Linked DNA regions of Homo sapiens: region 1 is linked to region 2. The links come from fine-mapping of genetic effects on gene expression. Tissue or cell type: whole blood. Region 2 holds a variant in brackets; the other region holds the start of a gene. All regions are shown on one strand. Distances are between the middles of the regions.

Evidence for each region. PIP is the estimated chance that this variant, and not a neighbour inherited with it, causes the effect.
Region 1: BRIP1 starts here. The variant in region 2 is fine-mapped to the expression of BRIP1 in whole blood (TOPMed, PIP above 0.99).

The regions. Positions count from the first base shown.
Region 1 is chr17:61,859,821-61,867,820 of GRCh38, reverse strand. It overlaps BRIP1 (BRCA1 interacting DNA helicase 1), which reads left to right and starts at 4,293. Exons shown (of 20, transcript NM_032043.3): 1 at 4,293-4,537; 2 at 6,252-6,374; 3 at 7,914-8,000. The coding sequence starts at 6,282. INTS2 (integrator complex subunit 2) reads left to right here. Exons shown (of 25, transcript NM_001351695.2): 25 at 95-2,454. The coding sequence ends at 264.
Region 2 is chr17:61,812,789-61,821,148 of GRCh38, reverse strand. All of the region lies in intron 6 of BRIP1 (BRCA1 interacting DNA helicase 1), which reads left to right. Among named protein-coding and RNA genes, the nearest start is that of BRIP1, 47 kb to the left of the region's middle. RefSeq lists an enhancer at 4,369-5,391. The variant T/C (reference allele first, on the strand shown) is at 4,520.

The DNA of each region.
Region 1 (8,000 bases), 47 kb before region 2:
TTATTTTCAAGGGTTATCTTAATATCTCAAACAAAAAGGCCAAATTCCTTTCCAAATTTCTTGGCCTTAATGTTTTTTTTCCCTTATGTTGTAGGTCTTCAACAAATAAAGGAGAAACCAAGTGGATGGTCTCAAATCTGTAAAGATTCATCTTATAAAAATGGATCCAGGGACACTGGAAGCATGGATCCTGATGTACAGCTCTGTCACTGTATTGAAAGAACAGTAATTGAAATAATAAATATGAGTGTTAGTGGAATTTAAAACAAAATTTAAAACAACAAAAAGTTGTTTGCTGCATATACCCAACATGAATCTGCATATTAGTAACAACTCTAAACTGAATGGGAACAGTAAAGTATTGTCTTGGAATCACTAAAACAATTCAATTCAACATGAGTATAGTTTAGAACTTTATGAGAATTATGCTTGCTTGTTTCTGATTGGCACATCTTTGGATCTACTTTGCTGATATGTTTCTATTGTAGCAGCTGAGCTTTTTTTTTTTCCACTGGGAACACATGTAAGAAACTCATTATTGGAAAGGGAATTTGGCCTTGTATTTAGCTTTTGAAGTGAAGACTGCCATGCCTTTAATTTCTTATAAAAATGAGTCTGTGGGTAGCCCTAGTGTTTATTTTAACTGTGAGCTTGTAACAGAATGTGACAAAGATGCAAAGATGGGAGAGGAAAAAAGGGTAAAGGGAAAGGAGAATTAAGGAAATAATAGGAGTTAAAAACACAAGTAGAAATCTCAAAGATTTGCAGTGCAAGTAATAGTAATGCAAGTTGGAATTCTAGTTCTCAAGAAAGAGTATTGAGAAGACTTTTAAAAAGGCAAGTAGCTTTTGTAAATGATTTCTGTGGAAATACAGATGAGGATTTAAAGATTTCACATATTTGCTTCAATTTTTATTAATATATGAAGCCATATGTTTAAAGAGATACTTGAATAATTTGGAATTTTAAGATACTGGTGTAAAAGTGTTTACAGAAACATCTTTGTTCAAAGAAGAACCTGAGAGATCTCATTTAGTTTTATGTTTTAAATTTATTTTTATAATGCTTTATTAACTTACCTAATGCTCAGAGGGGGGAAATATGTATCAAATTAAATGAAGGTAGAGCAATAAAACCCACTGGATTAAAGAGCTCTTGGTTTGTCATCAGGATTATAATTCATATCTTACTTTGAGAAGATCTTTGAGTAAGAAAATGCAGTGTTTGAACCTGAGGAAAAGTTAAAGTGTAGAAAATATTGTCTTGCCGAAGGATTTTGCAGTCCTCTGTCAGTAACTTCCATTGATTAGGCAGACATATTCAGGTAAACCCTAATCATTAAAAAAAAATTATCAATGTAGAAAGTAATTCCCTTTTTTCTCTCTGAGATATACCTCAATCACACACTTCCCCACCCCCACTTGAAACAGACCTCTTCACTTGTGTTTTTTTTTTTTTTTTCCTGAGGTGGAGTCTTCCCCTGTTGCCCAGGCTGGAGTGCAGTGGGATGATCTTGGCTCACTGCAACTTCTGCCACCTGGGTTCAAGGGATTCTCGTGCCTCAACCTCCTGAGTAGCTGGGACTGCAGGCACGCGCCACCTGTATTTTTGTATTTTTAGTAAAGACGGGGGTTTGCCATGTTGCCCAGACTGGTTTTGAACTCCTGGCCTCAGGTGATCTGCCCACCTTGGCCTCCCAAAGTGCTGGGATTACAGGTGTGAGCCACCGCACCTGGCCAGACCGCTTCACTTGTAAAAGAAATTAGGCTAATAAGAAGGTGTAGTTTTTGAGAAATGAAATTTAACTTTAGCCTTTTCACTAGTAAATAGTCACATCTCATTTTCTTCCTTTGTAAAATGGGGTTACTACTGGCCCTACCTCATATTCTATGAGAATGAGTTTGTAGCTGTTTCAAATCATGAAGTGCATAGTATCACATGTGATAGAATATTTATAACTTTTTATTAGATGCTTAATGTTCAATTAAGTAATTTTGATGTGAAAAATAAAAGTAATAAAAGTATCTTAAAAATAGCATAAGAATTTTCATATTTTTAAACAAGGCAGTTTTGTAGTCCCTTAAGATTAAATACAACTGCTCCTTTTTTTTTTAAACTGAGGCCTTGCGATATTTTGTGTGAATAGATATGCCCTAGGAGTTCAGAAAAAGTTAAAAGTATGTTTTCTAATTAAATGCAGTGCACATTCCTGGATCAATATTCAAAGACTGGTCATAACCTGCTGTGTTAAAATAATCACATATGCTCTTTTTCATCAGATTTGTTGATGATGTAAATAAAATGTGTAAATATATTAGTAAATGTTAATATTCATGTATTTTAAGTTAAGGTTATAAAATTTGTCACAATGTGTTTTTTTATTCAAGTGAAAACAGATGTGTGCAGCTATTTTGAATATTGGTTTATAAACATTCATATTCTTTATCAAACGAACCTGTAGTTTTTGTGTTTCATTCCACTAGAGTTAACCTGAAGGGAACGGTTCAAGGGACTGTATTCGAGGTCTGTATGGCTCCAGGGCCTACGTGTATCCCTTTCTGTTATGCCACATACATTAAATGGCAATGCAAGGTGAGAGCCAGTTGAAACTCTTAGTAATTTAGGAGAGGAAAATGAGAGTAGTTATACTAGAGCAGTTACTCAAAAGAGTTGATTTTTTTTTTTTTTGAGACGGAGTCTCGCTCTGTCTCCCAGGCTGGAGTGCAGTGGCGCCATCTCGGCTCACTGCAAGCTCCGCCTCCTGGGTTCACGCCATTCTCCTGCCTCAGTCTCCCGAGTAGCTGGGACTACAGGCGCCCGCCACCACGCCCGGCTAATTTTTTGTATTTTTAGTAGAGACGGGGTTTCACCGTGTTAGCCAGGATGGTCTTGGTCTCCTGACCTGGTGATCCGCCTGCCTCGGCCTCCCAAAGTGCTGGGATTACAGGCGTGAGCCACTGCGCCCGGCCAAGAGTTGATGTTTTAAAAATTATAAAAGAGAAATGACAATTTGAAGGTATTTTTAAGGATTTATTTTTAAACATTATCCTTCCTTTCATTGTCTTAACAGTAAATTACTTCATCTTTGCTCATTCATATGTATTTTCACATTACTGAATCCCTAACACCCAGTTTGGGGTTTGCTTTGCCTTTTTTCACTTAACCTTATATGGGATTTTTTCTTGCAAGTTTAATTTTTATAAGTTTATTGGCTTCATAATGTATTGAATTCATCTGTCATAACCACCTCCATATTACTAGACTGGGAAGTTCATAATTTTTTTCAGTATTACCAATAGATATTATTGTCAATTGCGGTATCACATTTTCTTTCGTTTAGATTACGTCTTTAGGATAAATATCTGGAGCTCAGATTACTAGGTCAAAGGGTAGAGTTTATTTTTATGACTACAAGTTTTGTCATTTTTGGTAAGATATATCACAATTGACAATGAGGCAAACAAATCAACTAGCCCCCTCCTGCTCTTTCTTCCCAGCAAACTCCTTCCCCAAACTAGTTACTTGAATTTGAGAAACAGTATGAGGTTTTGCCTTTTGGAGACATTATTATTTGAGCCAAGTTTAGGTTATACAGATTTTTTAAAAAAATAACATGATTTGGCAAGATCATGATGAACCTCCTTTTCTTTGAGTAAATTAAAGTACTACTGGCAAATAATAAACTGGTCTTAGGAGGGATGGAAGGCGGATAAGCCTTAATGGAAGTAGAAGTGATCTGATACTGGAGACCCTGAGAGCTTGTCTCTGGCTTATTTTAGCATCCGGGAAAGCCTTGAATATTATGAAAGATAGATTGTAGCCCGATGTCACAGAGCCTTCTTACTTAAGTTTGGCTCAGCAGTCTGGCAATTCCCGCCTGAGTCTTCGCTATCCTGGCTACTGCAAAGCTGGGTAATTTAAATTGAGTGGCACTGATAAATGCTCAAAGAACTTGGCAAAGCTTAAAGATACTTCCTTTCCGCTGGTCTACGGACGTGAAGAATGAGACTTCCAGTTTCCAAGGAATTTGCTGCATAGACTCTATCGCCGGTTTCAAAAGTCAAACTGAGACGACTTTCTACTTTAAACAAACACTAGGGATTTGCTGGAGTGGCGACAACCTTCCGCCGCGTACCTTGAGCCCTTGTTTTTTTTTTTTTTTTTCGGAGACTTCCATTGGATGCCGAAGTTCTCGCCCCCTCACCTCGCACCGGGACTGGTTGATTCCTGGCCTTGGCGGGTGATTGGTCGAGCTCGCTGGGCTATTGGGCGCTGGGAGTCGAGGGGGCGGGAGGCGGGAATTCGTCTCGGGTTGTGTGGTTGAGGGGTCTGGTGGGTCGAGGAAAGGTAACGGCGGCCCCAGTCCTGCACACAAGGCCGGGGAAGTAGCAGCACCCCCAGGAAGAGGGAGGAGGAAGGGCTCGTGCCCTTTCTTCTCTTCCAGGGCTCCGCTTTATTTGCTCTCAGAAGTCGGTTTCCTTTCCTTTTCTTCAGTGAATCGGAGCTCAGAGCGTTGCTTCGGTTTCCCTCCAGACAGGCAAGTCGGAGGGAAGTCCACGGAAAGGGCTTGAGTTCTTCTGCACAGCCTGCGGGCCCATGGGTGGTGACTGGATCACCAGGGTCTCGGGGATCTCAACTGGCTGGGGGAGGAGGGAGATACGGGGCAGAAAACCTGAGGAGGGAGCCTATCCTTACCTCCTTTGAGCGCAGGCCTGTTCTTAGCCCGGGCGCTGCGTTAATTCTTGGCGGGAGGCAGAGGGGTGTGTTTATCCTTTATGCAATGTTTGGGGGAAGCTACCCCATTTTGACACTATTGTTGCCACAGCCGGGGTACAGGACGGGCTGATTTCTAGATTATATCTGAGTAACTAGGCCAGCGTTGAGTTGTTGATTCATATTAAGAGGTTAGATTCCACCATACCTCATTCTCAGAGCTTTACAGATAGAATCGCAAAATGTTAGAGCTGGAAAATACCCTAGAATAATGGTTCTTCTTTTGGAGCACACAAGCAGTGGTGAATGTTATTATTGGCTTCATAATCTATTGAATTGCTATTTTAACCATCTCTTCGTCCCCAGGTTGAATTTACAATTTTTTCCCACGACTGCAAATAATTCCTTATTTAATAACAGTGCATGTAATTTCCCCCGCTATTTTGATTTCCTTGAGATATATTTACGGGAAGAGAAATCTATGGACTTTTTCTTCAGAAAAATGCAATCATGTACAGAAACTTATGCTTGCAATTTCAAGAGGTCATTGTCTCTGAATTACATCCGTGGATCCTAGGTTAAGAAAAGTGGTTTAGAAGAGGTGAGGATTAAAGTGATCCTCATCTGTATCAGATCCTGGGTTAGGTACATTCTGCCCTGGCTAATTTTCATAAAAACCCTGTCAGGTAAGTAGTAGTATTTCAATTCCATATATGGAGAAACAAGCTCTGAGAAGTTAAGTGATTCACACAGTGGAATTCAAACTTAGGATTGCCTTACTCCAAAGCCCATCCTGTTTCTATAATACTCTACTGATCTTCAAATAACATTTTTGAGTGCCTACTATGTGCCAAGGCATTCTCTTTCTTATAACAGCCTTTAAATTAAATTAGGGGTTATCACAGGTAAGGATCTTAGACTAGAGAAGTAAAAAGATATGTCAAAGATAACATACCTGAGTCAAAGATAACATACCAGGCAGTATACCAAAACCTGGTATAGAACCTATGCTTCCTGACTTCTGGTCAACAGCTTTTTTCTTCTAACTGGAGGACTGCAGAAAGGGGTAACACAAAGGGGAAGAACTGGAGAAAGAGTGATGCTACGGAGTTGTAGAGAGAGAGGCCTCAGGAACTTATTTGTTTCTGTAGGTTGATTACATCTGATCTAACTGTTACAAGAGCTCATGTTTAATCTGGTATGTACTTTATCATATTTGCACATTATTTCACTTAATCATTACCACAATCCTATGGGGTACATGCAGTCACTGTGGCTTAGAGAAGGTAACTAACTTTCCCGAAGTCACACAACTAATACCTGGCAGAGTGAAGGATACAAATCTAGATTTGTTAGACTCTAAGACATGCTCTTGACCGCTGTGATTTATAAGACTAGGAAATTATTTTGTTTCCATTTGTTTTGTTTATACTTTTATTAATTCCAGTTTCTGTTTCCAGATTTCTCCCTTAGTTTTGGTTCTCTGGTTTTCTTTGTAAGGCGTGTCTCAATATTTGACATTTTCATTTCTGTTGTAGTTAGGAATCTGAAATAAACAGGAAAGCACTATGTCTTCAATGTGGTCTGAATATACAATTGGTGGGGTGAAGATTTACTTTCCTTATAAAGCTTACCCGTCACAGCTTGCTATGATGAATTCTGTAAGTATTTTTCAGCAGTTAAGTTTTTATTAAGATATAGATACTTATGACCCATAAAGTACATTGAGTATTTGACTGCATTCATATTCTCAGTAAATGGAGAATATTTTCTGGGTTCACTTGGAAGAATATCTAACCTCTGGGAAACTACTGATTGCAGCTAAACTGTATATATCTGTGGTTAAGGCAAAGAAGAACATTCTGAAAAATGTTCTCAGCTCATTTGGAATTTCTATACTTTTAATGAAAAACTGCTATACTTTTAAGTAAAAACAGAGTATTTACTATCTTTTACACAGAATACTATTTTTCTCACCATTGTTTTGTTTGGATCATGTAGAAAATTAATATACAAATTTGAGTAAACCAGCTTTCCAGTTTTGTTACAGCTATTTTGCCATATGTACTTCATATCTTATTTACTGGTAACAAGATTATTAGTATCCTGAATTTGTTCTTTTCCTTTCCTAGCCATGTTTTTATACTTTTATTACATATATATGTATCCATAAACAATATAGAATATTATTTTACATATTTGAAACTGTGCATTGATGTGATACGGTACCTTACTTTTTATGCAGAACTTGAGTTTTTTAACTTAGCATTATTTTTAATGTATAGCCCTGTTGATTCTTAATCCATTTTAATTGTTGTATAAATTCCATTGGATGAATATACCAGAATTTATCTGTCCATTTTCTTATTGGTAGACATTTAGGTTGTTTACATTCTTTTGCAGTTACAAACAATGCTGCTGTGAACTTCCTTTTTTCTTTTTGTTTTTGAGACAGCGTCTCACTCTGTCGCCCAGATTGGAGTGCAGTGGCGCGATCTTGGCTCACTGCAACCCCTGCCTCCCAGGCTGAAGCTATTCTCCTGCCTCAGCCTCCCCAGTAGCTGGGATTACAGGGATGCGCCACCACGCCCAGCTAATTTTTGGATTTTTAGTAGAGACGGGTTTTCACCGTGTTGGCCAGGCTGGTCTCGAACTCCTGACCTCAAATGATCCACCTGCCTTGGCCTCCCAAAGTGATGGGATTACAAGCGTGGCTGCTGCTGTGAACTTTCTTATGCATGTTTCCTTGTGTTCATGTGGGAAAGGTTTTGGGTGTACACATAGAACTGGACTTGCTGGAGCTGGGCATCTTCACTTTATAAGAAATTGTTTATTTCTCTACCAAGTAGTTGTAACAATTTGTACTCTCACTAGCAGTATCCTTCATTAAGTTTTCATCAAATATATTGATAGGTAGTAATGTATTCTGGTTTTACAGAAATCATTGATGCTTGCATAATTCTGGCACAGATTCCTCTTTTCATTTCTTCTCTTGTGCTTGATATTTTAGTAAGATAATCTTAGGGAGAGGTGTAAAGGAATACAGTTTGGATTTAACTAAATATGAGTTCCTTCTGCTATTGTTGTGTTCCCTGGAGTGCAATCTCACTTTTCCTTGCTGTTCTATTTAAACTTCAGATGGAGAGAGACCTTTATAAAGTTAATATGTTTATTATTTTCATTGGTTTCTGTGTTCATAGATTCTCAGAGGATTAAACAGCAAGCAACATTGTTTGTTGGAGAGTCCCACAGGAAGTGGAAAAAGCTTAGCCTTACTTTGTTCTGCT
Region 2 (8,360 bases):
TGGTTGCCTCCCACAACCAATCAGACTGGTCACAGGCCACGTGTTTATTTACATAGTGTGCAACAAAATAACCAATGGAAACCTCTAGAGAGTATTTAAACTCCAGAAAATTTTGTAACCAGTGCTCTTGAGCCTCTTGCTCAAGCCCCCTCCCACTCTGTGGAGTGTACTTTCTTTCTTTCTTTCTTTTTTTTTTTTTAAGACAGAGTCTCGCTTCGTTGCCCAGGCTGGAGTGCAATAGCGGGATCTCAGCCCACTGCAACCTCCGCTTCCCTGGCTCAAGTGATTCTCCTGCCCCAGCCTCCCGAGTAGTTGGGATTACAGGTGCATGCCACCACGCCTGGCTAATTTTTGTATTTTTAGTAGAGACAGGGTTTCACCATGTTGGCTAGGCTGATTTTGAACTCCTGACCTCAAGTGATCCACTCCCCTCGGTCTCCCAAAGTGTTGGGATTACAGGCGTGAGCCACTGTGCCTGGCCCTTTTTACACTTTTGTAACCAGGGTTGGCAACTTAAATGAGCACCAGATAGGTAGCATGAATGAAAGAAGGGGTCTAAGTATAAGTGCATGTGATTACATTCTTTAAGTGGCAGGGACTGTGATACCTTGAGAGTATATGTCTCATCCAAATGTGGCAATCTAGTCAATGTTAGTGGATTGCTGTCCTGTAAGAATACAGGCCTAATGTGGCCAGTCAACCAGTTTTTCTAGAAGAAACCAGCACTATGGATTTTCATCTCATAATTTTTAAGTAGTTCAAATTTATAAAACTCTGTGTAGCCATTCAAAACATGATTGTGAAGCAGGTATGATTTGTGGACCTCCAGTTTGCAACTTCAGCTACTAAGTAAGTTTATTTTAGTGGTGTTTTAGGTGGGAAGGAGGGCAAATGTGTGTACCTAATCTGCCATATTAGACTGGAAGTCTCGTGGTTTCAGTTCTTATATACTGATCTTTAATTCAACTGTAAATTATTTTGATGTAAGGTGGGAGATAGGATCTAATTTTTTTCCCCAAATAGTCATTCATCTAAATATTAGTTGAATAATTTCCCCCACAGATTTGAAATGCCACCTGATTTAAACAGGGTGGTTTGCTTTTTTTTTTTTTAATTTTTAATTTTGGTGGGTACATAGTAGGTGTATATATTTATGAAGTACATGAGACATTTTGATACAGGCATGCAATGTGTAATAATCATATTAGGGTAAATGAGGTATCCATCACCTGAAGCATTTATCCTTTGTGTTACAAATAATCCAATTATACTCTTAGTTATTTTGAAATGTACAATTACATTATTTTTTACTATATTCACCCTGTTGTGCTAGCAAATACTAAGTCTTATTTATTCTTTCTAACTACTTTTTTGTTCCCATTAACAACTCCACTCTCTCCCCTCCCTAGACTACCTTGCCCAGCCTCTGAAAACCACCCTTCTACTCTCTCTCTCCATGAGTTCACCTGTTTTAATTTTTAGCTCTCACAAATGAGTGAGAACATGCAAAGTTTGTCTTTCTGTGCCTGGCTTATTTTACTTAACATAATGACCTCCAGTTCCATTTATGTTGTTGAAAATGACAGGATCTCATTCTTTTTATGACTAAATAGTACTTCATTGTGTATGTGCCACATTCTCTTCATTCATTCATCTGTTGATGGACACTTAGGTTGCTTCCAAATCTTGGCTATTGTGAATAATGCTGCAATAAACATGAGAGTGCAGATATCTCCTCGATATACTGATTTTCTTTCTTTTGGATATACACCTAGCAGTGGGATTGCTGGATCATATGGTAATTCAATTTTTAGTTTTTTGAGGAATTTCCAAATTGTTCTCGATAGTGGTTGTACTAATCTACATTCCCACCAACGGTGTATGAGGGTTCCCTTTTCTCCACATCCTCGCCAGCATTTGTTATTGCTTGTGTTTTGGATAAAAGCCTTTTTTTTTTTTTTTTGAGACAAATTCTCACTCTGTTGCCCAGGCTGGAGTGCAGTGGCATGATCTCGGCTCGCTGCAACTTCTGCCTCCCGGGTTCAAGTGATTCTCCTGCCTCAGCCTCCTGAGTAGCTGGGATTACAGGCGTGCACCACCACACCTGGCTGATTTTTGTATTTTTGGTAGAGATTGGGTTTCACCAAGTTGGCCAGGCTGGTCTCGAACTACTGACCTCAGGTGATCTGCCCCCCTCGGCCTCCCAAAGTGCTGGGATTACAAGTGTGAGCCACCGTGCCCAGCCAATAAAAGCCATTTTAATTGGGATGAAATTATATCTCATTGTAGTTTGGATTTGCATTTCTCTGATGATCAGTGATGTTGAGCACCTTTTCATATGTCTGTTTGCCATTTGTATATCTTTTGAGAAATGTCTATTCAAATTTTTGGCCCATTTTTAAATCAGATTTTTAAGGGAGTGATCTGCTTTTTAAGAAATAGAAACCCGCTAAAAGAAAGATCATGCAGGAGATATAATTCCCCTCATTGGAAATGAAAAGTTTTTAGGCAGCTTCTCTGTTCTCTTTGGGGCCTCTGGTGTGACATCTGCATTTCTCAGCAAAGTTTTCTCATTATTTTTTGTAGATTGGTTTTTCTAGATACTTACACTCTTTCATATGACCTTACCATGACATCTCAAAGTGGAAGCCTAAAATCTACCAAATGATGTGGCCTATTTTCTGTAATTAATCAACTCAGTCTAAATGCCCCAAATACAAGTTCTTGGGAAAGTGAAACTAATTGATCTTGCTATGCCTGAGAGTGTCTTTGGATATGTGTTATTAATGTGGATATTAGGTTCAGCCTTTCAGCAGGGGATATAGATGATTTCAGAGTAAGTAGGTGGACACATGTCCATAGAGGTGCCTAATACAGCATCTTTATCATATATTTGAAATTCTTACATCTATAGAAATATATACCCTACTTGCCCATCTTTCCCCCCCCTCCCCCCTTTTTAGAGATGAGGTCTTGCCATGTTGCCCAGGCTGGTCTCGAACTCCCAAGCACAAGTGATATGCCTGCCTTGGCCTCCCAAAGTGCTGGGATTACAGGTGTGAGAGATCACACCTGTCCCCATCTTATTTTTCCAAAAAGTTTTGGTTATTCTCACTTATTTATTTTCAAGATTAAATTTAGATTACCCAAAAAAAAATCTTGCTGGGATTTTGATTGGAATTCAGACAAAAATTAGAACAAAAAAGATTAAGAAAAGTAGTTTACTAGTCTACAAAAATTGTGAACCCAGTTTTCATGAGCTGCAACCTGCAGAACCCATTTTTACCTATGAGCACACAATTTTTACAGTGTACTTTTGCTTTTTCCTTTCTAACTTGAATTTACGAAGAGAATTTCTCACACATACAATGCACCTGCAATAACCATTGGTTTTCTAGAATCTCTGATAATACTTTAAATGTATTCTGTCCACTAGCCACATGTATTTATGTTTTTTGATTAATTAAAATTAAAATTCAGTTAGTTGTACTAATTACATTTCAAGTGCCCATGCGGCTAATGCCAAATATATTGAATAGTGCAGATATCAAATACGCTGTCATCACAGAAAATCCTGTTGGGTAGTGCTGCTTTAGAGACTTGTATGTAATAATAACCATTTAATTTTTAAAGCCCATAGAAGCACAAATCTCTATGTCATATGTTTTGTTTATAGCATTTTGGTTAATATGTGGAAAATGACATGATAGGATAGCATTGTTTTCTCATTTTAAAAGGTTCATTGAAGAAAGTTTGAAAAATACCATAAAGGAGAAAGTAAAAATTACCTGCAATCTCAAGAGATAGGGTTTTTTTTAAAAGCCTTTTTGAAATACAATCTATAACCAAGTGTACATATCATAAATTACAATTGGATGAATTTTCACCGACTAAATAATACATATATGTCTTTTTACCACAGTTTCTCTATTCCCAGGTTCTTTTTGATTCATGTCTTGATTGTTTGGATTTAATAATCATGTAGTTTTATTGAAGATGGGCACAAGAGTATATTTCTTATATCAGGAGGCATATGAAGCCAGTTAGTCTCAATACCATTGATGCTGAATTTCACCACTTGGTTAGAGTGTCACTGCCAGGTCTCTTCATTGTAAAGGTACATTTTCCTTTTGTAATTAATGAATAATCTGTGGGGTGATATTTTGAGACTTTGTCAATATTCTGTTCCCTAATAACTTTTCACTGAAAGATTTCAGCATCCATTTATGTAACTTGCCTGAATCAGTTAGTACAGGAAAGTTGCAAAATGGTGATTTTTAAAATTCTATCATTTTATTTACAATTCTTAGCTGGCATTCTTATTTAAAGAAGATATTTTCCGCCTACCCGCCCACTTCCCCATTTTGCTCGTTTGAGTCTTCTTTTTCCCCTTTTTATTTTTTATAAACACCCTGGGTTTTTCTCATGAAGTTGATCGGTGTGACTCATCACTGCTTTGAGACTCATTGCTATAATCACATCTATGTAAAGTTCTATTATACCAGGATAATTTTTGCTT[T/C]ATAGCAGGTCAGTCATCTTTATGATATGCTTGTTCTTAAACTGATAATTCTTATTGATTTACTCTATTGAAACACAGACTTTTCAGAAACTGGAGCAACTGTGTTAAGGAATTCCCATTTACACTAGGCAAGAAAGTAAACAGTAAGTGGAGAGTAGGGTAACAAACACTTATGGTATCAAAAAACAACCGTGAAAAGGATCTGTCTTAATGTGCTAGCCCACTGCAGTTTAACATATTGCTTACAACCTTCACAATAGAATTTGAGTGACTTCAGTTACACATTCCAGGAGACTGGCAGTCTGTTACAATCAGAGTCTGAACTTTAGAGCAGGCTAATTTACAGCGATGGGATGAAGAAAGTTGTGGATTTGTATTACACACTCTCACCTGACACTGTATCTGATCCCCTACCTGCTGATTGACATCTTGAATGAGCTCTTTGAAGCAAGTTCCAGCTTAATTAAAACGTTTGCTTGGTTAGCAGTGATCTATGAAAGCCTGTGATAAATATTGAATCAGGTTCACCTGCTGGTTGCTGTGAGTGGATAAACAGCTGCTTTGTGCAGTCTAATCATGAAACGGTGGCAGTAGGGTACTACTACTGTTTGAATTTTTAAAAAAAGAATAGTTGAAAAGGTATAGTTATGTTACTTTTGCTATCTTACTAGAGTGTGTGCTAATGTGAGATTTTGCACAACGGGCATTCAGTACCTGTTTAGATGGCTTGGACAACAGCAAATGGTTGATAAAGATTAAAAAACCCTTTTTTATGTCTCAAAGTTTGTAGTATAATTCTATGTTCATTGGCCTTTTACCACTAGCTCTTCATATGCATGACTTTTTGAAATAAAGGGCAGTGTTTTGCTTTTTTGCTTAAGTGGTAGATGAAAACAATCCTGTTAAAGCTTCACTTTAAAGATTTAAGGTTATGAATTTCAACTTCTCCACAAATTTATTGTGTATTTTGTGGGAATTTGAATTCTTCTGAATTTCCTTTTTTATCTGTAAAATGAAGTTAGAAATATACATTAGTGAACTGAGTATTTTAGCCTTATGTTAATATTAGGTAATTAACAAACATTAAAATAGAAATGAGTTCAGAAGCAGTGGAGGAAACTTTATGAAATTCTCTTGGCTGTTGTTTATTCCTTTACAGAATAACTATGTCTGGCTAATTTGGTTATAAAGAAAATGTTGTTTCCATTTGATTTTCGTTAAAAAACCAGATATAAATTCTGGAATAAAGCCCTAACCCAAATCAGTCACAATCTGCTTTGAGCACTTGATTAAAGTTAGGGGTTCACTTTCTAAAAATGCACACAAAATTGTGTCTGTAGTTTCTGGGTGATCTGTAATAGCCCATGGACCCTAATTTGAGAACCCATTTCCTAATAAATTAGGTTGAAAACTTTTGAGGAGGAGGTGTTAAGATGAAAGCTATTCTGCTGGGTATGAAACAACTGAGGAGAAACCAGAACAGAGTATATTTACTGTGGGTTTTTTTTTTTTTTTCCAGCACTTCTAGCATTTTTCAGGTATGTTTTTCATGACAATTGTTAGCTTTTAAGATTATCTTCCATAGTCTTGATTCCTCACTCTCTACCTGAAGTTTTATATTTTTATTTCTATCATCAACTTATTTAGAATTTTATGGGGAAAATACAATTTTGTTTAAGCCATACTCAGCCTGTTCAACTGCTTGTTCATGTTTATCGATGTCGATGCATACAACTGTCATTCATATATTTTCATTATAATATTATTCCATTGATTGGAAAGAGCCCACAATTTACTCATCCATTCCTTCTGTTGATACATGTAGCTTGTTTTTCTCACTATTAAAACAATGCTGCAATTAATATTCCTCTTGTATCTGTCTTAATGTGCAAGAGTTTTTCTAGCATGTATACCTAACAGTGTCATGCTGGGTCAAAGGGTATATGTATCTTTGATTTCACTAGATCACCAATTTGCTCTCAAGTAGTTGTGCCAATTTATACTTCGATCAGCAGTGAATAAGAGTTTCTTCATATCCTCTCCAGTACCCAATCTGGTGGATAGGAAATGGAATCTAATTATGGTTTTAATTTGCATTTTCCTAATTACTAGTGAAGCTGTACATTAGATGGCACATCTTTTCAGATATTTATTAGCCTTTCAGCTTTTCTCTTCTGTGATTTGCCTGTTCTTGGTTTTCTGTAGGGTTTGTCTTTTAAAAATAGATTTATTGGAATTCTTTATATGTTGTAGATACTGATCCTCACTTGACTGTAAGCACTGCAAGTATCTTCTGTCAGCCTGTGCCCCCTTTTTACCTATTTTTCTTTCCTTCTTTAAGGAATATGTATCTTTAAATAGAAGTTTAACATGTTAATGAAGCTGTGTTTTCACTCATTTGTGTTTTTGGTTTATTGTTTTAGGAAATCCTTCTCTACATTTCGATCATAAAAGATATCTTCCTATGGAAGAAGAGACCATATAGCCTTTGAAGCTTGAAATGTTTACTGTCTGGCTCTTTTGCTGACTCTTGCTCTAAAGAGTCTATTAATTGAAAGTTTGTGTTTTTTATTTTTCCCTTGGGGGACATAATATGGATCTTGTTATAACATATTTGATTTAAATGTCAACTAATAAGTTAAAACAATTTTTATGAAGATCATACTTAGGAATATTTTGTAATTGCATTCATAAAATAATATAACTAACTTTAAACAATTCCTTGGTTTATGAGTGAAAATGGTGTGATAAACTCCAAGAACTACACTTTGTAGAACAATTTAAGAATGAAGCTCTCTTTGTCAGTAAGATGAGGTGATCCTTGTCATTGTCTTCTCCGTGGCTTGATATATAGGGATTCCAATGTCTCTTGAGTCAATGAATGAATGAAATGGGATATTAGATGAAAAATGTTTAGCACAAGGACAGGCTTAAAAATGGCAGTATTATTACTAATGAAAATATTGGGATATATGTTTGTCACGACTAAAATACTAGCATAAGATGGTTTTTCTTTTTGGCCTTGAAAAATAGTAATTGTCCTGTACTTTTTCCTTTAAAAGCTAATCTGGATTTTGAAGTATCTTTTTGATATGTGCAGCACTTCAAATTAGGACATCATTTAAGCATCTGTCAGATTTAATTGTAATGCATGGGTACAGTATTTGGTTCAGGGACATTTAGTCATAATTCATCAGTTTAAAAAAAGCTAAGTTACAGTTATGTGCAAAACACCACTCTCGATGAATGAGCTATATAAAGAAATGTAAGACATAGTTTCTGTCTTCAAGGAATTTGCAGTGTGGTTGGAAAGACAATACATGCACATGTGGAAAGTTATGGAAGAACACAAGTTTTTGTATTTTTTTTTTTTACTGTTTCATTGACCTAGTTTTCCTTTTATTTCACTCAAACAGGTTTCTCTTCATTCTCTTTTTCTCTCTACTTCTTTATATACTTAGTTTTCGTACTCCTGCCTGCTTTTGAAATTCAATTTGTAGTCTCCTTTGAGAATCTCTCCTGATTTACAGTTAGCAAAGGAACTTCTTCTTTGGCAATGAAATTAGTTCCTATTTCTTTATCATTTTCCATTTCTAAAAATATTTAATTGCTATGCTCATTTTTCAGGTATTTAGGCATAGTATTTTTTTGTGTGAGTGGTAGGGAAAGTTTGGAGAAAGTTATAAATCTTTAGAAGTTGACATTGTGGTATGTTACCGTTTGAACTTATAATTATAGCTTGTGAAAGGAACAGTGGCAAGGACTCAGCAATTCATCTTTCTTTCAAGATCAAATCTTCGAACTCTTCATCTTTGAAAGAATGTAGACATGTCTCTATATA